Linked DNA regions of Homo sapiens: region 2 is linked to region 1. A link means that fine-mapping ties the variant in region 1 to the expression of a gene that starts in the linked region. Tissue or cell type: whole blood. Region 1 holds a variant in brackets; the other region holds the start of a gene. All regions are shown on one strand. Distances are between the middles of the regions.

Region 1 (11,749 bases):
GCGCATGGGGGAGGGGTGTACTCAAAATTCTTTTGCAATCCTTTAATATCTCCTAGTTAAGAGAGTCATTCATTCATTCACTAAACACTTTTGAGTGCCTACTATGTATGATCTTGGAACTATCTAAGTACTAAGAATTCAACAGTATGTAAAATAGAAAAGGAAAATCCCTGCCTTCCCTATTGGGAAGACAAATGAAAAAAAAAAATGTAGTTTTTAAAAAGTGAAATATATAGCATGTTAAATGAGCAAAAAAATAAAAGTCAATAAAAAAATAAAACAGTGAAGGAAGACAGGGAGCTTTGTTTTGTTTTGTTTTATTTTGGCAGAGAAGTAGAGGTTGTAACTTTAAATCAGGTGGCCAAAGAAGCTAACAGGAGAAAATGACATTTAGGTAAACTCCTGAAGGAAGGGAGAGGGAAAACCATATGGATATTTGAGCAGAAAAGCTTTCCAATAGGGGAAACAGCAAGTGCAAAGGCCCTGCGGTGGGAACAATCCTGAGATGACTCAGGGAGTGGAGAGAAGGCTAGTGGAAGGTAACTTTAGAGAAGTAATACAGGCCTGATTCTGAAGGGCGTCCTCGGCCTTGGACCTAGAGGAATGGAAGCCATTAGACAACGCTGAAAAGACCTGACTTTGGTACACAGAAGTAAAGCAATCCTATTAAAATTACATATGTAATATTTATATAAAATTATATATGTAATATTACTTATATATGTAATATCTAAAATTTAAGCTAGTAAAAGGAATGGATTATCTGCCGGGTAACTGGAAACCTGCTTATGAGAGAGGTTAGAACTAAGGGACTAGAGATTCACAGACATGGGAATGAGTCTGGGAGAAGAATTCACAAAGAAAAAGAGTTTAAATCCTAGGGATCAGTGAATCATAGGGATCAGTCCAATGTGGAATTCTTCAGCCAGGGAAGGAAATGGAGAAACAGGCATCAAGGATGTAAGAATTCAATTTGAAATGATTGATTGCATCGCCCTCCCCATCAGGCAGAGCATGAAGAACATGAATGATCCCACTGAAGCAGGGCGGGCAGCTGGGATTCTCTCACAGTGGGAATGAACATTAGAAATGGTGTAAGTTCAAACAGCCCCAATCCTATGCTGTGGATAACTGGATATCCCTAGGGAAACAGACCACAGAAAATAATAATCATGGGGAAGTACATCCTAAGACACAACACCTAACACCAGCCCAGGACAAAGGCACCATAAAAATTCCATGAGCGAGGGTCTGTTTACTTTCTCAGAGTAAATGTTAGTAACATGAACTATACATTTATAATGTTTTAAGGTTTAGAAGCCACTTTACGTCTGACTATATCTGATTAAAGATCGTAGTCGTTGGACTGGGCAGATGCAAACTAGAAAATCACCATTAAGGTGAAATGTGTCCATGTCTGTCTGTCACTCGCTGTCTGTATCATTTCCGGGGCCATGAAGATGTGGCTTTAACCAGAAGTATTTGAGATATGCCTCTTTCTTAGGAAAGCTATGGCCTTTCTAACTGCCTGAGAGGGCTATGAAGAAGAGGAGGGGTGGCAGATTCACCCATGGGAGCTGAACACCCAAAGCAAGAAAATCAGGGGCTCTGGGAAAGGAAGTGAGTCAAGACAAGCAAGAGAGAAGGATGAGAGCGAGCACCTCCAGGATCTGGTTTACCAGAGAAGACAAGCTGCGAGGAGGCCACTAAACTTCTGCCCTGGCACAGTTTGCTGCAGGGAGGCAGCCCCAGAACTAGTGGTGAGGTCGAGGGGCTAGGCCAGGGGAGGGACGGACAGGCAGAGGTCCCTTACTCTTTCGATTTATCCGATCCGTGCGCCGAGTTGATACGATGCACCTCTTTCTTTTTGGTTTGTTTGGAGGCCATGGCAGAAGCCGATCTATGTAGGGCTGAGCTCTGAGCAAAGAGCCTGCGGGCGCGCTCGGCTCCGCGTCTGCGTTGCCAGGAGACGGCGTCCCGCGTCCAGCGCCCGGAGAGCGGGGGCGGGGCCCTGGGGGCGGGCTCTGCGGCCTGTGGCTGCAGAGGGACGCAAGAGCATAAACTGAAATCCCACATCCCCGTGGAGGAACTTGGAGTTGGTGTCTGGGGAGAAATCGAGGTTCTGGGGCACGGGTTTGGCATTAGGATTACTGGGCAGCCCTGATTAATTGGAGTTCTGCAGGACCTACACTGCCTGGCTTTGCCCTTCGGAACCATAGACATATATCGACTCTTGAATATCCAACTATTTGAACGTAGATGTTATCCTAGTACCACCCCAGTTATTCTCTTGGCTAAATATAACAAGTACCTTCAATAATTACTAAGGAGACATTACAGACACGCTGAAATTGTCAATGGCTTGAAAACCTGGGGTCCAGAAATTAACACAGTGGGTGTAAGGAAGGCAAAATAATGACACCTTGAGTCGCTGAGGGCTAGGTGATGATATCTGTAATAAAACCAATAAGGTGTCTTGTTGTTCGAATGAAAGAGTGAGTCCAAGTCATGGGCTCAGGTGGTCCTTTGCAGACTTTCCAGAAAAGGTCCAGGGGCCAGATGACACAGACAGAACCAAGTAAAATGAAACTTATTAGGGCGCAGGCTTAAGGCTCAGTCATCAGTGGTGATTTGTTAGTTATCTTGCCTTGGGCTAGTTTTTCCCTTTGAGTCTCAGTTTACTCACTTATAAATAGGAGATGCCTATTACTCACTTATAAATAGGAGTTATACCTAACTCACAGTTCTGTTTTGAGGATAAGATGCAAAGCGCAGCAAATAGGAGCCACTCTTTCAGAGATGACAGACCACCTGGTTTCGAGGAGCAGCAGACAGCGTGAATGAATGAAGTTGGCCAGGTAAATACAGAGTAGTGGATACTATGCTTAACTGAGACATGCTTAGACTGCAAGAGCTTGCAAATTTATCAAAACAAAACAAAATATTGTGTTGGTTCAATATAACCTCACTTCAGAGATATCTGACACACAGCCCTTAGGCCTAGGACCACTACTACTGGTTGGTGTCTTTCATGAGCCTAGAAATAGTTAAGTATCTTTAAATAAAAGAAATCCCCTCCACTCATGGGACTGGGCACATGCTCACAGTTCCACCTGTGCAGGCAAGAGGCAGCTTCCTGCAGAGAAAATCTTTCAACTTCTCTGACAAATGAATGCTCAGGGCTCTCCACTCAGCATAGCCTATGGTTTGTCAGACTATCCCAATCTTATTACTATTGGATTACTACTGGGGGTTACCTAGATGACAGACAGCCCCTTCGTTGTATTTCTATATGCAAAATAAATAAATTCCAAGTCAGCAGTGTTAATATTATGACTACAAGACTGCCCTGCAAACATCTCCTATATATGTAAAGACAATGAACACATCATGAAGATTCTGCTTTGTTTATACCATAATTCAAATTTCCAGAGAACTCTCTTGAATGAAAGTAGAGGACTAAATGGTGAGAAAAATTATTTACTACCAAATTTTGTCAGAGTAATCAAATTTATAGCTATAAGTATATACAAAGACTCTTGGCTGAAAACAGCACAACTTTAAGCAGCCAACCCCACAGAGAGGTGAGTTTCTTCTTGAACAAGGGCTATCCTGCAGCCATTGTTAATGGCTGCAAGATGCCAAAAGAATTAGGGAAGATAAGCCTTAGAAATCAAAAGATCTACATCCCACCGGTATTTTATGGACAAATAACTCCAGGCGAAGACAAGCAAAATGTCTTGCCAAAAGTTGCTGGGTTATTTATTGATGGAATTTGGACTAAACACATTAAAGTCAGCATTGCCAGTTTAAGCCAAACATATCACTACTCCACTCAGAGCTTGCTTTTTAAACATCTATTAAATTAGGATAAAGTAAGGGGGTTGTCACCAGAATGGAATAAGATAATCATAAAAGATGTGACGAGTATAAGTTGCCTATTAATTCCTACGCCAGTGTTCTTTCTCCTTTATTATATTAAGAGTGCAACATGCATAAATGGAATTTCTCTTCTTTCTGGAGCTAAGGTTCTGGTCAGGCTGTAATTATAAGAGCAAATCTGTTCCTCTCTAAGATAGTTCTAGCTACAAAGCTTAACATGATATTTATTGTGGCAGTGCAAAAAAGACAATAGGTCCTACTGCTGTTTTTATTTTTCTTATAACTGTTGTCAATGTCACTTTGGAATAATAATAATAATAGCTGTGATTTATTGAGTACCTACTACATGCAAGGTTTAGGGAAGGGTGCTAACTCCTTTAGAGATAAACTTGAATTTAAATCCTGACTCTTGTTGGGTAATTATGGGTGAGTTATTTAACTTCCATTTTCTTTATTTGTGGAAAGGGAAGAATAATACCTCAAATATGCTTGACTCATCCCAAGCATTCAGAGAATTATAGCTAATGTTATTATTCCACAGGTAAAGAACTGAAATGCAGACAGGAAATGGGACTTGCCTGACATGGAGCAGGTGGTAGGTGGCAGAGGAAGATTGGCCACTCCATAACCTGTGCTCTCTCCAATTCTCTGGACTAACTGTCCATACAGATGATTGCCCTGGGACTGAGCTTAGGGATTTCCAAACTCTTGCTATTTAACAACTGTCAAAGACTGAGAAACAGGGCTTATATTTTATTCAAGCTACCCAGAATAGGGCCTCTCTCTAATCTATACTTCCTTTTCGGGGAAGAGATATTTGGCTTCAGGCAGCAGTAGCGCCTGCTCCCTAGGGAAGTGGTTAGAGGTACCCACTTCCCCATATCAGCAGAAACAAAACAGGCAGGAGTCTCTCTGCTTGAGGATCTGCCTAA[A/G]TAGGGAAGTGAGAATTGGCAACCACTTCTCCCTCCACCAATGGGAATCCTAGATGGAGGGAACTGGGTGGGAGATGGCAGGGGTGGGCAGAGTGGCAGCATTTCTGTTTCTTAAATCCATAACTCCATCTTCAGACACTTGATTCCACAGCCATAGGGAATTGTATATATTTTGCTGCTCAGCTACCTCTTTGCAATTAGGTCAATTATAAAATTACTTGGAATTTAACCAGCCAAATGAGAAAGTATGCATTCTACATGTTCTGTGTAAGGTTGAATTTAACTGTCACTTCAAGTTCTGTTCTTTTCACATTTCCATGGAAATTTACACCCTTCTCCTTTATTTCCCACAGAACTTTATTTGTTCATCTTTTAAAATTCCTATAATATTCTGTCTTGTTTTTATTAATACTTATGCCTTGTTTTTTCTCCTTTACTAGACTGTAGGGTCACTCAAAGCAAAAACTCCTCTTCTACCAAATTCATTCACACTTTTGAAGCTCCTAAACCCTTAATAATAAGAGCTTACATTTGTTGAGCACTTGCTATGTGCTTGACCCTCTTCTAAGCTATTTTTCTGTATTAATTCACTTAATCCTTACAAACACCCTAGGGATTTGCTATTATAATCTCTCTTTTATAAATAGGAACATAGGCAAAGAGTGGCTAAATTAAGTTAGTAAGTGATCAGGCATGATTCAAACTCATGGCTCTAGACCCATGCTCTTTATAACCACATTATTCTGCCTCTGACACCTTCAGTGATCACAACCCTATGAAGTATGAAACTCTGCCCATTTTATAGCGAAGAAAATGAGCTTTAGAAAGGCAAAGCAACTTGCCCAAAGTCCAAAGCACAGGGGGAATGGAGTCAAAATGCATAGGTGAACACTTTGGTTTCAGAGTGCAGGCTCCTAAACTCTCTGCTACATACACACTGCCTACTTCAGAGTTCAAAACATATTTACTTCAGATCATTGGAAATGGTATTAAAAATCACAACTGACATTCAGTTGTGTCCAGTAATATTCAGTCTCTACACCTGTTAAGGAGAAGTTGGATCCTGCAGATATGAAACCTGCTGGCCCTGCCACAGAAAGCCCCGTTATTCTGGGAAAAATTGAATTTATAGTTTTAATGACCTGTGAAAGGAAATTCTGAATAGAGGTTCTTTAAAAAATGGGGGATATGGAAATAAGTTATTAGTTGAAAAACAATTTCCATTTTGATAAGCTGCTTCAAGAAGAAGCAATGACTAACTGTAACTAAATGCTTCATCAGGATGCAAACAAACCTATTTTGTACAATGCTGCAATTATCTGTGCAGCAGATGGGTGGTTCTGTTTCCCCTTCTGGACAGAGACACTCACCCTTTGTTGTATACTTGCACTGAGAGCTACATGTGTCCCACTAGTTTATGTAAGAAGGGGATATAAATGGGGCAACTCTGAAAGGTGCTTCTCTCTCCAGAACTTCCCTTATGACCCATGAAGGCTTCTGTTACAACTGCGTTGCAGTTTAACTTCTCCTTCTCCCCAATCCTGCTTCCCCTACAGATGTTATTGAGAATACTCACTAATAAACCTCATGCATGCAAATCTCAGAGCACCAGAGCCTGGTTCCTGGGAACTAGCTTGGAACAGTGTTAGTAATAGGGATGATCCTAGGAAGCAGACTCTAAAATGGGATTTGGGAAGACTTCCACTTCCAAGCAAGATGAAGTAACAGAGAATTTACCTTCTCTCATGAAATAATTAATAAACTAAAGAAAATATATGAGGATATTGACTGTCAGACAATAAAAGAGAGTGATACCTGGGAGATGGAAACCAAAAAAACTGAGCCTTTTAATTGTCCCATCTTACTGCTAGGTTGTGGCACAGAAAAGGGGAACCTAGGCAGAGCCTGATGGTGGCCCTGATTGGGAGAGACAGAGCTGAGGTCCAGGGAGACTGGGCAGCCAGCGTTCACAGAATGGAGTGCCAGAAAGTAGAAGTTGCACAGACAGAGTATGGAGAGGACAGAACTGCACAGAGGAGAGATCTTCAGAGAGGAGGACTCAGTATTCATGACCGCTTATCTGTTCCTTCATGTGAGGAAATTCCCTGAGGCCAGGGGAAAAAACCACCTAACAAGTTTAGAAGGAGCGACCTTCTTTGAGCTTACGGTAGGCTGGGAATGGTGCCTATTACCATCTGCCTGATTGGAAAAAAACTCATAATTCACAGGGTATGGACTGGAATACAAAGAGAGTTTTGCCCTTGAGAGTGAACAATTCATTCTAGACGAAATGCTCCACTAGTCTCAACCAACACATCTGAAAAGCAGGATCTGAAAATATCAAACTATTTCCAAATAACAGCATCACAGAAAAAAATCTTAAGAATATTTTTTAGGAATACAAAAATATCCGAGTAAACAAGAATTTTACCTTGTTTACTTACCAACAAAGTAAAATTCTCAATAACTAATATCCAATAAAAATTAACAGGTCTGAAAGAATAAGAAAAATATGTCTCATTAAAAGAAAAATATCAACTAATTGAAGGTAACTCAGAAAAAAATAAGAGAATTATTAGAGAGGACATTAAAACAGTTATTAAAACTGAACTCCATATGTTCAAGAACTAAAAGAAAGAATATGATAAGTTCATTTTAGGAACTTCTAAAAATGCAAAGTACAATGTCTACATTGAAAATACACTGTGGCCGGGCGCGGTGGCTCACACCTGTAATCCCAGCACTTTGGGAAGCCAAGGTGGTTGGATCATCTGAGGTCAGGAGTTCGAGACCAGCCTAGTCAACATGGTGAAACCCCGTCTCTACTAAAAAAAAAAAAAAAATAGCTGGGCATGGTGGCAGGTGCCTGTAATCTCAGCTACGCAGGAGGCTGAGGCACGAGAATCAAGTGAACCTGAGAGGCGGAGGTTGCAGTGAGCTGAGATCGTGCCATCGCACTCCACTCCAGCCTGGGGGACAAGAGCGAGACTTTGTCTCCAAAAAGAAAAAAAAGAAAAGAAAAGAAAAGAAAAATACACAGTATGAAACTAACAACAGATTACACATTGCAGAAAAACAGATTAGCCAATTTGAAGACACATCAATAGCGATTGTCCCAAGTGAAATATAGAGAAAAAAACTGTTGAACAAATGAATAGAGCATTTGGATACTGTGGAACAACTTCAAATTGTCTAATAAAGATTAGCTGGAGTCCCTGAACGGTGAGGGCTGGGGTCAGAGATGGCACAGTGAATACAGAAAAAAATTACATGAAAAAATGATGGAAATTTTCCAAATTGCATAAAAACTATAAATCCATAGATCAAAAAAACTTAATGAACTTCAAGCAGAATAAACATGATAAAACTACACCAGGGGCATCACAACCAAATGGATTAAAGCCACAGTTAAAGCAAACATTGTAAAATGGGTCAGCTTTGGAGCTGACCAACAGGTAATGAGTTCCTCATTAGTGCAGGATTGCAGTGCAACTGTTAAACTTTGACCTGTGGTAAATTACAACAAGATAATAGTAGAAGAGAATGCACCAACAGATACAATATCTCAGGCCTTTGAGAGGTTTTGAGAAATAGTAATTATAAGGATTAAGAAACTGGATGGCTGTTGCCACTCTAAAAATAAGAGATATAGTTATAATAACCGATTTCTTGTTCTTGTCTATTAACTAACATCTATGTCATTTCTGGGTCAGGTTCAGTTGAATTATCTTTCCTCCTAATAGGACATGTTTTCCTCATTTGCTCTATTTTTTATTAGCTACAGGACATGTTGAATTCTACCTTCTTGGATGCTTGTACCATCTGTTACAGCTATTAATTTTTCTTTAATGTAATTGTGTTTATCTGGATGTTTAGTTTATCTGGAGGTTAATTTTATGCCTTGTGTATTTCTAAAAAGATGACTAAGATTTGGTTTTTATCCCCAAAGAACTCATAATCTTGTGGGTTATGAACCTACAAGGAACTAGGACTGATATTTACAAAATGACACAATGAATTCCATAGAATAGCTGTTAATCCTGATGAAGGACATCGAAGGGGTCATACAGCACATTGTGACTGGAAAGAAATCTCTAGCTGAGATTAGACACATGGGCATAAGCACAAGACAGATGCATGGTGAGAGGGTGGGAGTGACATTTCAGATCTGGATCATGAAGCAGTCCTGGGTGACTTGCTGCAGCAAGAAGTTCTAGATAGTGAAAGGTGATGTTTTGAAGGTTTCAGCACAAGTACAAGAGCAGATGAAAGAACACTAGACAAACTTCTCCATTTTTGCACTTATGCAATATGTCACCAAGTTAATTTAGAAGATTCTATTTAGGCAGTGTACAGGTAGATTCTAATTGTAGCATTGAGTTTACTGGCATTTAGACTTGGGTTTCAACTTAGCTCTATTATTTGTAAGATGTATGATAACAGGCAAGCTATTTAGACTCTCTGACCTTGATTTTACTCATCTAAAAAATGGTTATAAACTTCATTCCTCATCTGATTATTGTGACAATTGAGATGCATATTTTAAACAAAAATGAAACAACATAAGACAACGCAATCATTCTTATATGAGAAACCATTACGTAGTCTATATGAAGGTTCAAAAATAGCTTGGCATAAACCGAAGTTGCAAAGAAGAGACTAACAGAATTTTGTATTGAGATGATCTATAAAGATTTCAAATAATTCCAAAAACTTTTAAAAGGATAGAAAATTAATTTGAAGTATAATTTTAAAACATGAGAATTATAAAGAAAAAATAGAGCTTCATGATTATCATAAGGTATACTAGTCTCCCCAAAGAATCTTCATCTTATATACCTTGTGAAGGTTGTTAGATGCCATTCTGTCTTTTGACTTAATTGCTAGTAATTCTTTACATTTATGAAGCTTATTCAATTTTCCACATATTTAAATATCATATCTCACACATGCTATTTATACAAAAAAGTAACATTTAAAAATATATTCTAGTGTTTAAAAATGCAGACAAATTTAATTAGGAGCATGGAGCAGAAGAAAAGTTAGATTTTTTTATTATAAAAGTGTTGATTTTGGAAATATGCAAGTATAAGCACAAGTAAAAAAAATCTCTAATCCTAACTTCCAGAAATAACCACTGACAATATTTTGATGTTACAGAGGCTTCCCATTATGTACGCAATTATTTTATAAATTGAGTATTTGACTTTTTTCACTTAACTATTGTTGTTAACATTTACTAAGGTCACTTAATTGTTTTCTACATGATAAAAATTTTAATAGCTGTGTAGTAAGCCTCACATGGATGTACTTAGCCATTGCCCTCTTACTGGACTTTTAGGTTATTCCTGTATTTAACTAATGTGATTGGAAATACAGTACAGGACAGATGAACAGGAATGGGGAAGTGGAGGCCTGGACTGGCTTTGCATGAGTCATTTCATCTTTCCAAGTTCTAGTTTCCTTACTTAGAAAATTGTCAGGTAAGCTGGGTATGGTGGCTCATGCCTGTAATTCCAGCACTTTGGGAGCTGAAGCAGGAGGATCACTTGAGCCCAAGAGGCGGAGGCTCCAGTGAGCTATGGTTGCAACATGGCACTCCAGCCTGGCAACAGAGCCAGGCCTTGTCTCAAAAAAGAAAAAAAAAAAGAATGGTCAGATGAACTAGATGATGTTCCAGATCCTCATTAGTGCTAGTATAGACACCAGCACTTCCAGAATTAAAGAATACTTTGGTGAGGAATGTCTTGAGTAGGGCATCACTATGGGAAACTGAACAATTTGAGGGTAGTGTAAGGACATATGTATGGTGGGCTTTTCGCCGAATTAAAACAGCAAGAAGTGAGCAGTGGCAGAAGCCTGGGAAACAAAGTAGAAAGGCATCAAAGTATCTCTGATTCTGCCAATCCTTTCCCCTCTAAAAAGGGGAATGCTAAAAAGGATTGACATCCAACCTTGTCATCCCTCTTGACACGAGGCATGTGTTGCTCTCTCAGAGAATGATGCTTTCAAATGTGATTAGGCATTTTACACTGTTTGCATTTGAGCATATTGTCAGCTTCATAACCAAGTTTAAAACACAGTTTTATAATATGCATTAATTTAAAGGCAACTAATTTAAGATAAGTTTGCTTTATCAAGGAGTCGAAAAGATGGAGCTAAAGTTAAAGGCTATAAGAGGAAGAAGAGCATTGGATAATGAAAGCTTCATCTAATAAACAGACTTATCCATTCTTTGATTTAACACAAACTTATTGAACATCTGCTATGTTCAAAGTCCAATTCTAGGGTCTGGAAGGGTTCAAAACAGACAAAATCCTAGTTCTTGTGAACTTACATTCTAGTACAGGGAGAAAGATAATAAACACATAATATGCATGTTGTTATACTATGTCAAAAGTGGGTAAATACTAAATAGGAAAGGGAAATAGGGTAGAGAAAATAGGAAATGGAAAAATTGAGGAGGAAATTGCTATTAATTGCATCAAGGGCATAGGAATGGCCACTCTAATAATGGGACATTTGAAGAAAGATTTGAAGTAAGATTTGAAGTGGGAAAGAGACCAAGCCACCCATACCTCTGAAGGTAAGACCATTCTGGGCAAGGCCAGTAGCAAGTGAAATTTTGAGATAGGAGGGTACATGATGTATACTATGCCTTCATGAAAAGAACAAACAGAGCATGGGGAAAAGTAGTAAAAGATGAATTTAGAGAGGCAGCAGGATGGCAGATCCTATACACCCCTATCAGGAACATGGCCTTTATCCTGAATCAGATGATAGCAATTAGAAAATTTGGGGCAAAGAAGTGACATGATCTAACTTAGGCTTTAAAATGATCTTTCTGGATGATTTGTTGAAAATAGACATAGGTGGCTGCTCAGGATGAGAAGGGCAGAAGCTACAGAAAGTAAGTTAAAATGCTATTGCAGTAA
Region 2 (16,911 bases), 51 kb after region 1:
CAATGATAGTGTAACTAGTCACATGTTAATGTAATTCCCATATGTTAATATTATTAAAGTTTCATATTAGAAATCCATTATTTGCCATAAAGGTGAAATGATGAAATTTATTTGCAAAAGTTATCTTTTGCCTATGTTCCTAGTGAAATTCGGATGACTGCAATTCAAGCAAAAGTCAGATCTGAAGTTAGCTGCAGGCCAGCTCAGAAGTGTACCTTAGTGACATTTAGGCAGTACTTTAAGCCTTAACTCTAAGATTTTTAACCTAAATTTTTTTATTACTGTTATTCTCTTGGAACACGTCTGGTTTACTGCTAAGGAAATTCTACAGAAGCTGCTTCTATTATATTTGTATGGAAGCACAGAGCAAACTTGAAACTTGTACTCTTAACCAGCGTTTCACCTTTCACCTCTGCGTGTAATCCTATCCATACATAAAGTGAAACCGATGACTTACACAGTCACAAGCTACTAGTCACATGACGTCTTACATCTGGGGGCAAATCTGGATTTACTATCTGAAAGATTAAATAGAGCCTAAAGGGGAATTTTGTCTATCATTTATAAAACTCCTCCACCAAAATGCACACTCGCATAAGCAGTTATACTTACTGCCCCTTTTTTTTTTTTCGTCTTTTTACAGCAAAGCTGGCAAGTAGAGCAAATCACCCAATAGGCATACAGAGCAGACAGAGGGCATGAGTGTCCAGAAGAACACGCCTGTAATCCTAGTGCTTTGGGAGGCTGAGGCAGGCAGATCACTCCAGCTCAGGAGTTTGAGTCCAGCCTGGGCAACACGGCAAAATTCTGTCTCTACTAAAAATGCAAAAAGTAGCTGGGCATGGTGGCACATGCCTGTGGTCCTAGCTTCTTGGGAGAATGAGGTGACTTCTCTATAAGAAGGCTTTCTTTCTGTGATTTTCTCCTTCGTGTCAGATTAAGTGCTCACATAGCACTCCTGGGCTTCATCTTTCTTCTATCACTATGTTTTATTTATGAAAGGAAATTTTAAGATGCTATATTTATTCAAACAATTAGCCTCTAGCTTAGGAGTGTACATTTCTGCCTGCAGTAGACAGTCTTTTTTTTCCCAGTGACTCCATCATTGCGCAATATTTTTGGAGCGGTCTCCTTTTGTGCAGTCTCTCATTGCTTCGCTTTTATCCCGCAGATCATCATTGGCATCAAGTAGTTTTTCACTCTAAGGGTAAGTTTCTAGTAGAGCTAAACCTAATCTGATTAGTAAATATCCAGAATGAGGTGGGTGATTTGGAGGAACAATCATACATACATACATATATAAAAACACCCGTAAACACACACAAGAAATCCACAGAACATAAACTAAAAGCTAGAACTGTGTTATGATTTCAACAAATTTATGGTATAATGTTTATCTGTCATCACAGAATTTTTCAAACATTTCATCATTCTTACATAAATCTGATTGTCACTAACCCCCTTATGTGAAAGTTCCAATGCACGTAACCCCCCCCCCAAACATTTTATATATGTATAATTTTCACCTTTTTTCTATATCTAGACTATTAAGATTTTTTTTTTTTTGAGATGGGGTCTCACTTTGTCACCCAGGCTGGAGTGCAGTGGCATGATCTCGGCTCACTGCAACCTCTGCCTCCCAGACTCAAGTGATCCTCCTGCCTTAGCCTCCCGAGAAGCTAGGACCACAGGCATGCACCACCATGCTCAGCTACTTTGTGTATTTTTGGCAGAGACAGGGTTTCGCCACGTTGCCCAGGCTGGTCTCGAACTCCCAGTTCAAGCGATCTGCCCGATCCATCTGCCTCGGCCTCCCAGACTGCTAGGATTACAGGCATGAGCCACCGTGCCTGGTCACTAGACTGTTAAGATTTTTGAAAGTCAACTGAGTGTTTTATTTTTTCCTTCAGAAAATATTTTATTCAGCTTTCCATAATAGACAAAAGAAAAAATTCTCACTCTACTGTTTATGAAGCATACCACAAATGTTGATACTTTCTGGCTGTTTCAAATCTTTCGTACACAGTTAACCTAAAACTCTTCAAACATCATCTGAATAAATCTCCTCTCTGATCTTTTCACATGGTCCTGCATGTGACACACATCTTCACCAGAGGCATCTTCCTATTCACTTAGCCTTTTGTAAAAACCAAAAATTCTCGTGCTTGACAATACCCCCAACCACTCTAGTTGCATGAGAAGTACCTCAGTTAAAAACTCAAACTCACAGAAAATGTCATTTGCTTTTTGCCCTAAATAATTCTTTTTGTTTTGATGGAAAATCTGCCCTTCTATTAGCCATTAGCCAATTTGGAAAGCAGTCCTGTTGTGGACTGAAAGAAGCTATAACACATCCATGCTACACTTCTCATTTTCCAGACTTTCAAACACCACTCACATAAATATATCTAAATACTTTACATTTACAGCTCAGAATTATGAGCTAGAAAGCAAAAGATGCATAAGCAAAGCAGATCTCACCTTTGCAGAGGTTTCAAACCATCCGGCAAAGCCATGTTCTTTGCAGAATTGGTCCACCTGGGAAGGACTCTGGCTACTGTCCTTGTTCTGGTCACATTTGTTAGCCAAGAGGACAGCAGGGATAGGGCTGCCATTTGGAAGATGAACTTTACTATCCAGATCACTTTTCCATTTTAAGACTGCCTCAAATGTGGAACTTCTTGATATATCAAAGACTACAAAAGCACCAACAGCTTCCTTGTAGTATACTCGGGTCATGTTGCCAAATCGCTCCTGCCCTAGACATAAATATAAGAAAAAATTAAAAACTTGTAATTCAGACAGAGTCTACATTTAGGTATAACCCCTTTTACCCCAAGAGCAACACTATGAACAAATGTCTTCCATTCCACAGCAATATAACCTGGTGTGATTAAGGCTATCCATACAGACCATGACCCATAGAGCAGATGTGTCTGATAATTTGGTTTAAGTACATAATGAATTAGTTTTATGTTCTGTACAACATATTCTCCATAAAAACCAATATGACAATATTTAAAGCTACAAAGTCTGTCATTTATTCCGACTCGTCTCCCCTTAGTCTAAGAGAAGAGAGGCACTAAAGGAAAACATAAAGCTGGAAGTAGAGGAAGAAGAGACAAGAATAGAAGAAATGAAGCCTGCAGGAAGGAGATAAGTGCAGTGGGTAACATGCTAGTCAAATAGATTAGGGCTGGACATGAGATAAAGTAGTTCATGTTCTCAACTCATCTCTCCTTCATATCTCTAGCCCATACCCACTTCTGACTCAATATGCAAGATTTCACCCCTGTAAGTAGTAGATACATGAAAATCTGTTTCAGAACAAAAGGCACAACTGGTTGTGTTGTTACAAGAAGAATCAATTCCAGGGTTCTTCAAATGTCATTGTACTTTTAAAATAATTTATGTCAAACACTTTGGGAAAAATCTGCTTTGTACATTATATAGGACTTTGCAAAGCGTTCTCTTACTATCTGCTATTGTACTAATCTTTGGCATAGGAAAGACCCTTCTTTTCATCTGACAGATGTAACAACAGGAAAATGGATGCTTGGCCAGGATTATAGTGGCACTGACTAAAGAAGACAGGACTAGAATCCAGGTCTTCTGACTCCCACACACCTATAGAAGTGGGATGCTAGCCTTTCTGAACTATCTTGCAGTTGCCTTGACTTAGTTACTGACTACAGTGTGAAGGAAAAATGATTGGCAATCAATGCACATCTAAGATGTATCACTCTGTTCTATGATAAAGACACTTTCTTCTTGAAACACATGAGCAACAGGCTTTATCTACATTTTATTGACACATTTTCTCTGCACAGATGCAAAGATACCCCAAAATATAAAATTCTTCCTTCTCCAAACTCTACAATGCAATATAATTTTATATATTGTTTTAGGGAATAATGGAAGAAGAATAAAACAATGGTCAAACGTGAATGCATAAATTTAAGGTTTGTTTTGTGATGACTCCTCATATGGTTTAACTGAAGCTGTACTGTAATAGTCCAAAGGTCTAAATTTTACTGTAACAAATGGTCACATATGAAACCCTACTATTATGCTCATATTTTATTGTGATGTAAATCTGACCATTATATAGTTCATTGGCTCATAATGCTGACATTTATAAAAACTTACATGATATGCCAACTGTTCAAAATCGCTATTCTGCAGAAAGACTATATGCATTGAAATGATTCAGACTCCAATTTCAAATGCAGTGCACACATTACCAACCACTTCCATTTTTATATATTTTAATTATTGAATATGAAAAGACTAAGCAACAAGATATGACAGTCTTAAATTAGGAAATTGAAAAAGTAAGATTTCAAGATAATTACATGGTAATAAACTATTCCTTTGGACTATATCTTTAATTTAGAAAAGAGAGTGGGGTGACAAATGAGTAAAAGAACAGTTAGAAACCTAGAAGTTAACAAAGAGTTGTTAAACTTTAGTGACTGTTGCTTTTTTTTTTTTTTTTTTGTGAATCATCTGTAAATTTCAAGTATTTCCTTTTACTCGTGCTCATGAAAGATGATAGGAGAGTTGTGAAAAAAAAGACAAAGGGATATTACTAGGTATACTAATCGACAAAGTATAAGATGCAGCAAGGCAATCAGGATCCACATTCTATTTTGGATGGGAATCAAAACAATGTAAAATAAGTTTAGGCATAAATTATATAGTTTATATCTTCCAAGCACACATTTTATGCTTGGGTAAATATTATTTATATGAACTTCAGAGCAGACTGTTCCCAATTTGTCCTTTGGCCCAAAGGAGAGTTACTCATTCAGATTTTTATTAAAAAATGTTGATCCTAAAAAGCAAATCACTCAGTCAATACATGAAGGCTAAAGTATACTAGACCTAAATGGACAAACTTGTTTTTTTAAGATTTAACCTAGACCAGTCTTTCAATTTGCCTGAAAAATGCTATAGTGACTAATAAGCAATAAGCATATAATAGTAAACCAAATACTACTTTACCTACACTGAGCATTAAAAGGAAGATCAGAGACATCTCTTGCTATATCTTGAGTATGCATTTATTAAGATCTCTGTAAAGTGTTATCAAAGACTTCAAGATTTTAGTATATTTCAGTTATGTTTTGAGCAGCAGTCCTAAAGTACGTGTGAGTTAAGAGATGGCAATTGTCTAACACAAAAACTGCACTAAACTGCATCTGTATTTTAAAGCCAGATTCCTTCAATGCCGTAAGAACAGATTTGTGTATCTGAGGATCACAGTGGTTCTTAACCTGAAGAGTTCAGCTGAATCTGCTTAGCTACATGTGTAGAAAACATTTGATAATTCTAGCCTATCATACTTGCCACAGCTTTCAAGCATAGAGATTCGTCATAATTTCTTCACTACCTCGCCCTCTCACTGAAGCAACCAAAAAAAAAAAAAAAAAAAAAACCTAACTAGTAAAAACACCACACCTTAACTTAGTTATGGCAAGTAGCTGGCTCTATCTACTATTGTGCAATCAAAGAATATTTCTATTATTTGAGAATTAAATATGATCCAACTTTGTTACTACATAAGGCAAGTATGCTTAGCCCTGGGGGAAGTTTGTGGAGCAGCCATCAGTTTGCCTTCATTACATCATCATTACTTAATTCAAATGGTATGAGCTGAGATTCACTAGTAGCTCAAATATTCAAATCAAACAGTTAGTAATGTAGCTCTCCAAACTTTAGGCTAAGGATTTTTTGTTTTGTTTTGCTTTTTTTGGTCTCTAAAACAGTTTTTTTTGTTTTTTTTTTGTTTTTGGTCTCTCACTAAGCTATTTTTCTCCCTCATATTCAGAGATATTAAAATTCTATCTCTGAAAATCTTACTTATAATGTGAGCCTAATAATTTCTATAAATTTACCTCTAATTTTGTAAATTGCTGGTCTGTACTTGCTGTATGGGACAACAATACCTGTTGAAACAATATCTAACATCCAGAAATCCCTTTTGGAGATCTTAAACTTTTGTTTTCCTTCCTGGCAAAACTCAAGCTTTGGATTTAGTGAAAAGTACAAGGATATCCCATCTAGGCAGATGTTTATCAGAGTCTGATAAAAAACTAGATATGACCCCTTCCTGTCATTCGAGGTCTGTGATTAATAAAAAAAGAAGAGGTGATACCAGAAAGAAAATTTGTATCTTACTCCTGCTTTTACTTTCTCAAGTTTCTAACTATAAACACTTAAAAATCTAGTTACTCATACTGATTTACCAGCAGTGGGACCCAATCGTAGTTTAATAACAAAATGCCATAATTTACATAAAGAGTAAGGCAAGGTCAATCACCCTTGTAAGCAAGGTTTTAAAACCATCTTTGTGAAAAACCTCAGCTATGCTGCAGATTCCTGGAGAATGACCGTCACATGGTAAGGCAACCTTTAGAATCCATGACTTTGTCAAGAAGCAGAAATACTGCTCATTAGGGTTCTGTGCAACGGCAGGAAGTGTTTCGAAAAAACTTCTGGCTTCAAAGATGACTTTTCAAACGAACTTTTGGTTTTTGGTAACAAAAAACAACAACAAAAAGCTGAGTCCCTGGCTGATTACTCCTTTTTTCTGAGCAACTGAGTTGCATACAGTTATTCTCCTGTCTGAGGGACAGAAATGTGCTCTTAAATGAATGAGTTATAGGTTACAATTATTTACTACTCTTTCTTATGTAACAAGCTATAAATGACAAGAGCACTACCTGGCAGACAGACAGTAGACCTGTGATCCCCCCAACCACTCTGCTACCAGCCAGGTAGCTATACCCTCCATGGGCTTCAGTGTAGGGACTGTAGAATGAAGGGTGGCCTCAGGTGTCCTCTAACCCTAAACCAGCTCCCATTCTAATGCTGTACTGCAGACTGTGCTTCTTAACACCTGTAATGATTGAACAGAGTAATTTTCGTACTTTTTTTTTTTTTTTCTGAGATAGGGTCTCACTCTGTTGACCAGGCTGGAGTACAGCAGTGAGAACACAGCTCACTGAAGCCTTGACCTCTCCTAGGGTCAAGTGATCCTCCTGCCTCAGGCTCCTGAGTAGCTGGGACTACAGGCACGCACGACCACACTTGTCTAATTTTTTGTATGTATGTATGTATATATGTATGTATGTATTTTGTAGAGACAGGGTCTCACTAACAGCCCAGGCTGGTCTCGAACTCCTGTGCTCATGCGATCCTCCAGTCTAGGCCTTCCAAAGTGCTGGGATTACAGGCGTGAGCCACTGGCACTTGGCTTGGTACCATTTCTATGAACTTTCCAATAGTTAACATCATCTTTAAAACGCCCACTCCCAACCACCACACCAGGCAAAGTTCAAGTGTTCATAAATCAGAGCAGAGGGAAATGTACCCCCTCAAACAGAACAAATGAAAGCAAATGGCAGAGAAACACTGTATTGAGGAGTGGGGGGGGGGCGGGGGGGGGCGAGGGCACCAGGGATGGGACTAGGTGTTGGTTTAGCAAGAGAGGAAGGGGTGAGTGTAAGGTTTCAGAAAAGCTTTCCCAAATCTTCACGGAGTGTCTGTCCTCGGCTTCCGATGAGAGCAAAGTATTTGAGGAATGGAGTTTCCCTCACAAAGGCCAGTCTCAGAGCCAAGGCGGGTGGTGGAAAATGATCTGGAAAGGAACCTGGCTTTTGGTCTTGGTGGTGTCACTAACTAGGAGTGCAGCTTCGGGTTAAGTCACCCAATCCCTCTGAACTTGAGTTGAGGCTGAGAGGCGCCGGCCCGCTCCAAAGCAGCCTTCTCAACTAGTCCTGGTGTATGTATGATATACTTGCATTATTCAGAGTTCAAACTTCTGGAAAAGGCCCCCTGGCCTCCTCGCCTCCCTTCAGGAGAGCGAGCTCTGGCGTGCAGGACCTGCTCCAACTCCTACTGCCCATCCCATCCTCTGGGCCCCACCGAGTCCAGCCGACCGCGTCCATCGCATCTCGCCCTTGGATTGGGCCTCTCTCTTCTCCTAAAGGTACCCAGGCAGACGAGTTCAGGCAGAAAAGAAAAAGAAAAGAAGCAGAGAGGAGCCAGGCGGCCCGGCGGGGCTCTGGAGTGGGAAACTCGCGGCCGCGCTTACCCGCGATGTCCCACAGCTGCAGGCGCACCAGAGTCCTGCTGTCCCAGTTGAGGACCTTGAGGGCGAAGTCCACCCCGATGGTGGCCCGGTAGTGCTGGGAGAAGAGCTGGTGGACGTAGCGCTTGATGATGCTGGTCTTGCCCACGCCAAGCTCGCCGATCACCAGCACCTTGAAGAGGTGCTCGCGGGTCTCGGGCGCTGGGGCGGCGGCCGCCCCCAGGCCGGGGTCCCCGGCTCCTCCGCCCGCCATGAGCGCTGCGGCTGTCGGGCGCGCCTCGACTCCGAGTCTGGCCCCCTGCCCGGCCTCGCGCTCTGCCGCCGCGCCCCCGGCGGCCGCGGAAACTCCCCCGAGGCCGGCCAGCCCTCCGCCGCGCCCGCTGACGCCGCCTGACCGGTCACAGGACCCAGAACCCGCCAGTGCTCGCGGCCCGGGCGGGGCCAGACGAGGGCAGGGCCGGACGAGGGCAGGGCCTGGCGCCGGCTTGGGGAGGACCCTGCGCGAGGCGGCTCCCGCCCTGCGCCTCTGAAGCCCGGCCGGGCCCAACTGGACTTCCTCTCCCGGGCGGCGCCTCCGAAGCCCGGCCGGGCCCAGCTGGACTTCCTCTCCCGGGCGGCGCCTCCTGGCGGTCGCGGCGCGGAGGGAGGCCCAGACGCCCGCTGGTGGGCCTCCGGGGAGCCGGCCTGGAGCCTTTATGGGCCCCGGAGGTTCACTGGGGGCCTGAGGAGGCGCCGAGGTCGCTGAGCCCCCCCCGGGGCCGGGGTCGGCGTGGGGTCCGGGCCCAGCCTGGAAGCCTCTGGCCTGGAAATCCACCTCCTGCCCTACTCTCCCCGCAGGGAGAGCCACACTTGCGGGCCTTGGCTTGGGTCGCGAGCAGTCCCCTTTAGATGGGAAAGGAAGTGGCACCGTGACTTTGAACTTAACGAAGGACGGATAACACTGGGCTGGTAGTTCTGTTTTTAACTTTTTGAGTGAACCTCCGTAGGGTTTTCCATAATGGCTGTTCCAGTCCGCATTCCCACCACCAGTGTACAAGGTTCCCTTTGCTCCGCACATCACCGACACTTATTATCGCTTATCTTTTTTATAACAGTCATCCTAGCAGGTGTGAGGAGATACCTAGTGGCTTTTCCCTGTTCATTAGTGATTTTGAGCGCCTTTTCTTATACCTGTTGGCAATTTGTACTTCCTCTGGAAAAAAAAAAAAAGTCCATTCACATCCTTTGCCCGTTAGTTAACTGGGTGTTTTATTTATTTATTTTGGCTGAGTTCTGTGAACGTAATGTATTTTGGATATTAACCCCTTATCAGATATATGGCTCACAAATATTTTCTCCCAATCTATAGGCTGTTTTTTCATTTTGTTGATTATTTCCTATGCGGTGCAGAAGCATTTTAGTTGGATGAAGTCCCATTTATCTAGGTTTGCTTTGGTTGCCTGGGCTTTTGGTGTGATATTGCAAAAATCGTTGCTAAAGCCAGTGACCCAGCTATCCCTCTTCTGGGTGTATACTCAAAGGAAATGAAATCAGGATCTCAGAAATCGCTCTCAAGTTCATGCAGCATTATTCACAGTTGCGAAGATTTGGAAACAACCAAAGTGTCTGTTAACGATGAATGGATAAAGAAATTGTAATACATACATAGGCATGCACGCGCGCATATACACAGACGCACACACACACACAATGGAATATCATTCAGCCTTTAGAAGGCGATCCTGACATTTGCAACAACATGGATAAACCTGGAGGACATTATGCTAAGCGAAATAAGCCAGACACAAAAAGAAAGATACTGTGCAATATCACTTATATGTGGAATCTTAAACACACACACACACACACACACACACACGGAATACGTGGAAACAGTGGTGGTTACCAGGGGCAGGGAAGAAACGGAATGATGCAGGTCAAAGTGTACAAAGTTGCAGTTATATAGGATGAATGAGTCCTAATGATCTAATGTAGCATGAGCGTTATAGTTAATAATATTGTATTTTAAACTGGAAATTTGCTAAGAGAGTAGACTGTAAGTGCTGTTACCATTAAAAAAAAATTGCAGCCAGGTGTGGTGGCACCCACCTGTAGTCCCAGCTACCCAGAAGACTGAGGTGGGACGACTACCTGAGCCTGGGAGGTCCAGGCTTCAGTGAGCTTAATCGCACCACTGTATTCCACCTGGGCGACAGAGTGAGACCATCTCAAAAAAAAAAAAAAAAAAAAAGAAAAGAAAAAATGAAAAGAAAAAATTGTGTAACTATGTGAGATGATGGACATGTTAATTTGTTAATTTGCTTAACTCTAGTAACTATTTCACTATGTATATCAAAGCATCATGCCGTATACCTTAGATATAGATATATATATATATACACACACACACAACAAAATAGTCTATTAAAAACCTTATCATGCTTTAGCATTTAAATTATGGAAGGAGTTTGAGAAAGAAGACACAGGGACTCTGAAGCCATCTTACTTTACTTCCCTAACAATCCTTTTTCAACCTTCATCTGGTAGTGTTTGGATTAGATGTAAATGCTCTAAGATAAATCATAGGAAATTGATTGGAAAGTAGTAGACTTGTGGGTTTTTATTTTAAAGAAGAAACATGGGGGACAGCCCCTTGCTTTCTCTATCTATAAAGTTGAGGGATGCACCCCATCACCTTAATATTTAGAAACACCTGGAGCTGACATCATCTGGCAGCTTCCTTAAATAAACTAAAGCAGCTGCTTACCCTACTATCCTCACTCTAATTGACAATTATTGAAAAGTGTTTTTCAGAGATGGAGGCGTTTTAAAATTTAGAAGTCAAGGTGGGAGTAAAACCTTTTTCTAGAATAGCTATTGAAAAACCACAGATGTGGAAGTACAGCCAACCAGTACATGGCTTTTATGTTCACCCAATTAGAGAGCCCTTCCAAACCCATGTACAGTTTGGGAAAAAAAGGAAATCCTCCAATTTTTGGACAAAGTGCAGCATTTTGTTCCGTACGTATGTAATACCATAGATGTTTTTTTTTATTCGTCCTTCTCTAGCCCTGCTGAATTTCCACTGACTTTAGAGGTAGAATTGTGGTGGTGCTTAAAATTAGAAAAGGTCACTGCTAAAGGCAGGATAAAGTTGTGGATCAACGATTCAAAGACAGGATAAGAGTTTAGATGAGTGGTTTTCAAACTTGAGAGTTCTGGGTTTGTTAAAACAGAGGGGTTCTGATTCAGATCTAGGGTGAGGCAAATAATTTGCATTTCTAACAAGTTCCCAGGAGATGTTGCTGCTAAGTGTCTAGGAGCACAGTGGTTTGGATCAGAATTTGCTTCTCGAACTTAAAAGTTCTTATGTATCTAGTAATACATACCACTTTTTTTTAAATCCATTTATCCTTCCGTAGATATTGAGATTGCTTCCACACTTTGACTATTGTCAATTGTGCTGTATTGAACATTTGGGTGCTAATATCTCTTCAAGATTCTGATTTTCATTCTTTTGGAGAAATACCTGGAAGTGGGATTGCTGGATCATATGGTGGTTCCATTTTTAATTTTTTGAGAAATCTCCATATTATTTTCTATAGTGGCTGCACCATTTTGCATTCTCATCACCAGTATACAAGCGTTCAATTTTCTCTGCATCTCTACCAACACTTGTTGTCTTTTAAAAAATATAATAGCCATCCTTATATAATGGAATATTATTCCACCTTAAAAATAAGGAATTTCCACAATATGCAACAACATGGATGAACCTCAAAGACGTTATGCCGAGTGAAATAAGCCAGTCACAATAGGAAGAATTCTGCATGAATCCACTTATATAAGGTATCTAAAATAGCCAAACTCAGAAAATCAGGAAGGAGAATGGTGGTTTTCAGGGTCTGGAGTCAGGGAGAAAAGGGAAATTGCTAATTTCAATTATGCAAGATGAATAAGTTCTAGAGATCTGCTGCACCACATTGTGCCTACAGTTAACAATAGTCTTGCACACTTAAACATTTAAGAAAGTAAATTTTATGTTGTGTTCTTACTACAATACAATTATTAAAGTTCACATAAATTATGTAGGATCTTAGAAAAGTTTAAATTCTGATTCAGCATATCTGGGATGGAACCTGAAATTCAAAATTTCTAACAAGTTTCTAGGTGATGTCAATGCTGTTGGTAGACCACACTTTTGTTAGCAAGGTGTGATGGTTAATATTTAATGTCAACTTGATTGGATTGAAGGATGCAAAGTATTGTTCATGGGTGTGTCTGTGAGGGTGTTGCCAAAGGAGATTAACACTTGTGTCAGTGGACTGGGAGAGGAAGACCCACCCTCAACCTTGGTGGGCACCATCTATTCAGCTGCCAGTGTGGCTAGAATTAAAGCAGGCAGAGGAATGTGGACGGACTAGTCTTCCAGTGTTCATCTTTCTCCTGTGCTGGATACTTCCTGCCCTTGAACATCAGACTCCAAGTTCTTCAGCTTTTGGACTCTTGGACTTACACCAGTGGTTTGCCAGGGGCTCTTAGGCCTTCAGCCACAGATTGGCAGCTGCACTGTTGGCTTCCCTACTTTTGAGGTTCAAGGACTCAGACTGGCTTCCTTGTTCTTCATCTTGCAGATGGCCTACTGTGGGACTTCACCTTGTGATCTTGTGAATGAATACTCCTTAATAAACTCCCCTTTATATATACATCTATCCTATTAGTCCTGTCCCTCTAGAGAACCCTGACTAATACACACGGGTTCAGATTAGAATTCAGTAGTTCCCACATTTGCTGTGTATCTGACTTACCTAGGGAGCTAGCTAGTTAATTAGCCCCGACCTTCTGTTTTAATGTTTTAGAAGGGGATCCCAGGAATCTGTATTAAAACACAAACAAACCTAGATAAGCATGATGCACACACTAAAGAAACCAGACATACATAATACCAAGTACTGTAAGTAAGTGTTGGACAATATCTGCGTGTACAGCCCTGAACTGGAGAAGGTTGGGGGAGAATGGATAAGTGTTAGAATCCTGAACTGACATTTTAGAGGAAAACAAGTTTTCTTTCCACACATGAAATAAAGAGAACATAATACAGGTAATCTGAGACTTGTCACTGAATAAATACGACTGCCTTTATTTTAAACAGACATTTCCATTTACTACATAAAAAAATAGCCCACTCAGAAAGTCACCCTGTGATGTTCCCCTACACATTTATTATGTTTCAGCATTTGCTATGCCTTTTATCTAGAATGTTCCAAACCATTACCCCATCCCAGGCTCTCAAATAAACTGTCCTCATCCTTCCTGCGCTAGATCAAAGGATTATGTTATTTTCACTCCTCATTTTCCTGGCAGATTTGTATATTCATTTATTTATTCAAAAGCTTATAATTATACCTTGAAATATTTTAGATATTTTAGCTACAATGTTTAGCAGCATAGATAAATTCTTGTTCTCAGGGACTTTATATTGTAGTGGGAACAGGAAAAATAATTTAAAAGCAATCAAATAAATGAGATAATTTGAGATAGTTATACGGTTCATGAAAAATAAAATAGGAAAATGGTATTTAACGATAATCGTTGAATGATAAATATAAACCACACTAACCAGCAGGCCTACCCCAAAGGAAATACGAAAAGCAAACGTCAGGTTTCATTTGGTTCCCAGAGGGACAACTGATTGACTCAGGACTATTGACTCAGGACGATTCACTGAAAAGCCCATCTTTTTTCTATTCCTCCAACGTGCCACCTTTGTCGTAATTCAAGTAGTCCTGTAAGAATGGATCTGTTTCTGCTGTCTCTTGCCTTCATTAGTCTGTGGTCTTTACTTGTACCAATTCTTATTTAGTGATTGTAACTATGGTATAAGTCTTTTCTGGTAAATCAAATTCTCTCATTCTGTAATTCTTCAAGTTTCCCTTAACCATTCTGGTTCCTTTATATTTCGATACAATTTTAGTCTCAGCATCTCAATTTTCAGAAACACACCTGCTGGGACTTTTGTTGTCATTACATTGAATCTATAGATCACTTTGAGAAGAATTGGAAATTATACAACATCAAGTCTTCAAAAATATTGACATGGTATATCTATCATTTATGTAGGTCTTATTATATTTCAATAATTTTGAGACGTCTTAAAATTTCTGTAGCTGGTATGTAAAATTAAAATTAAATTAATTTGTGTATAATGAATTGATTCAATGACGCTGATAATTCTAAAGGTTTATTTATAGAATTACATTTTCTATGTATACATTATTTTAAAAAAAACTTTTCTATCCTTATTTTATTCCTTTCTCATAACTTATTTCACTGGCTAGGGCTACTAATATAATTTTGAATAAAAATGGAGACACTGGAGATGCTAGTTTTAGAGGTAAAAATTTCAACATATCACCATTAATTTATTTTAATCAAATTATCATTTTAAAATTGTGTTAGGTTTACAGAAAAGTTGCAAGGATAGTACAGAGAGTTCCTATGTACTTAACATCTAGTTTCCCCTGTTGTTGACATCTTAAATTAGTATGGAAAATTTGTTATAATTAATGAACTGATATTTATACCATTAACGAAAGTCTATGCTTTATTCAGATTTCCTTAGTTTTGATCTACTGACCTTTTACTGTTCCAGTGTCCCATTCAGGATAATCATTACTCTTAGCCAACATGTCTCCTTAGGTTCTTTTTGGTTGCAGCAGTTCTCAGAGTACAGGCTAGGTATTCTGTAGAATGTGCCTCAGTGGGGATGATCCGATGCTTTCCTCCAAATTATACTAGAACTTCGAGGTTTGGGGAGAAAGACCACACAGGTAAAGTGCCATTCTCCATGAATTACATGAAAGGTACATGCCATCAATATGACTTGTCATTATTGATGTTAATCTTGATTGCTTGACTAAGGTAATGTTTGTCAGATTTCTGCACTGTAAAGTCACTTGTTTTCCCCTTTTCCATATTGTTTTCTTTAGAATACTGTCCGCAGCCAATATTTAAGTAGCTGGGTTAATACTCTCTCTCTATGAAAGATAATCTCTCACAAGATGTTTTGAATTCTGCATAGTAGATTTAGATCTCCTCCCCTATTCATTTATATATCCAAACATTTACTGATGCTAGTATGAACTCATTGATACTTCTTTTCTGCTTCAGCTTACACCCCAATATAACTTTATTTTGTTGCTCATATTGTTCCAGCTTTCGCCATTGGAAGCTCTTTCAGTTGGCTCCAATGTCTCTTTGATATTTTCCTGTCACTGTGGGTTTTGTGGGTTTTATATTTGAGTTTTTTCTCACTTTCTGGCACTACAAGATGCTGCAAGATCATTATTTCATGCCACAGACCCAAATTGGTCATTTGTGCAACAAGTCTGGCATCCTTTCATTGGAGAATGGAATAAAAAACTGATATCTTTGAGCTAGGTGTGTTCACTGGTACTGTCCCGTTGCTCAAGACCATCTCAGCTGAAAGAACAAGGAAGTATGTGTGTGTACTAACTCATGTATACGTGCATATTTATAAATTTTTCTGTATGTATCTAAGAGTATTTATTTTAAGCTAAACATGAGTTCATACTCTTGTCTCCCATTCTGATCAATGATCACATGGATCCTTCTGGCATTCCCCACCTGTTTATGTGTAACCTGTCACTCCAACAGTGAGAAACCTGGCTTCTGTCATCAGCCAGCTGTTTACTTAATTGTGCAATTCCAATGTACAGGTATAGTAATTTCAGAATTATTGACCCATATCCCTGTGGGAAACAAGTTTATCAACTAGAATACAGAGCTTATGTAAGGTTCCTTTTATCTTCAGTATTATAGACTCTACTTATTTCTAAATATACTAACCAATTATCTTTTCTCCATCCTCTTTAGCAAGATTATTTCATACATTTGTAATACAGTTGTTTTTTAAAAAAATCATAGCCTGCATCTCATCCTAGGATCCTCTTATCTCCTAAATGTTTGTTTAATTTGCAAACATTAAGCTCCACTCTTCATGCTGTAAAGTTCTATGGTTTTCAGAAATGTAGAGAATCATGTATCTGCCAGTATGTATCATACCCAACAGTTTCACCACTCTAAAAAATCCTGTGTGCTTCATCTATTTACTACTACACCTCAGAATCCCTAGCCGCCATTGATCTGTTTACTTTATCATTTTGACTTTTTAATGGAATGTTGTTTTAATTTATATTTCCCTAACAAAAAATGGAAATGAGCAGCTTTTCATAGGCTTATTTGGTCACTTGTATGACATATATTCACTTGTATGTCAATGTATGTCACTTGTATGACATATATTCTTTGGCGAGGTGTCTGTTCAGATCTTCTACTCATTTTTATTTTGTTTTTTGTTTTCTTGTTGGCTTTTAAGGTTTTTTTGTATATTGCATATTTCGGATATAATTCCTTTATTATATAGCTGTGTTGCAAGTATTTTTTCCAATCTGTGTCTTATCTTTTCATTCTTTTAACAATGTCTTTTGTAGAACAGATTTTAATATATAAAGTTCAACCTATTCATTTTTCATGATTTTGCTACTCTTGTTGTATTTAAATATTCATTCTTAAATCCAAAATCATCTAGATCTTACCCTATGTTTTCTTCAATAAGTTTTATAATTTCTGTATTTTTATTTATGTCGATGATTTATTTTGAGATTCTTGTGAAAGGCATAATGTCTGTGTGTAAGTTCACGTTTTGCATGGATGTCCAATTGTTCTAGTACCATTTGTGTAAAAGACTATTTTTGCTCAGTTTAATAGCCTTTACTCTTTTATCAAAGATTCTTTTTTATGTTTGTGTGGGT

What was found. PIP is the estimated chance that this variant, and not a neighbour inherited with it, causes the effect.
Region 2: it holds the start of RAB32, and the variant in region 1 is fine-mapped to the expression of RAB32 in whole blood (TOPMed, PIP 0.99).

The regions. Positions count from the first base shown.
Region 1 is chr6:146,589,179-146,600,927 of GRCh38, reverse strand. It overlaps ADGB (androglobin), which reads right to left and starts at 1,956. Exons shown (of 36, transcript NM_024694.4): 1 at 1,814-1,956. The coding sequence starts at 1,887. It overlaps ADGB-DT (ADGB divergent transcript), which reads left to right and starts at 1,997. Exons shown (of 3, transcript NR_125860.1): 1 at 1,997-2,095; 2 at 2,757-2,858; 3 at 4,424-6,412. RefSeq lists a silencer at 1,861-2,155. The variant A/G (reference allele first, on the strand shown) is at 4,815.
Region 2 is chr6:146,535,312-146,552,222 of GRCh38, reverse strand. It overlaps RAB32 (RAB32, member RAS oncogene family), which reads right to left and starts at 8,390. Exons shown (of 3, transcript NM_006834.5): 1 at 8,102-8,390; 2 at 2,482-2,759. The coding sequence starts at 8,351. RefSeq lists a silencer at 8,437-8,816.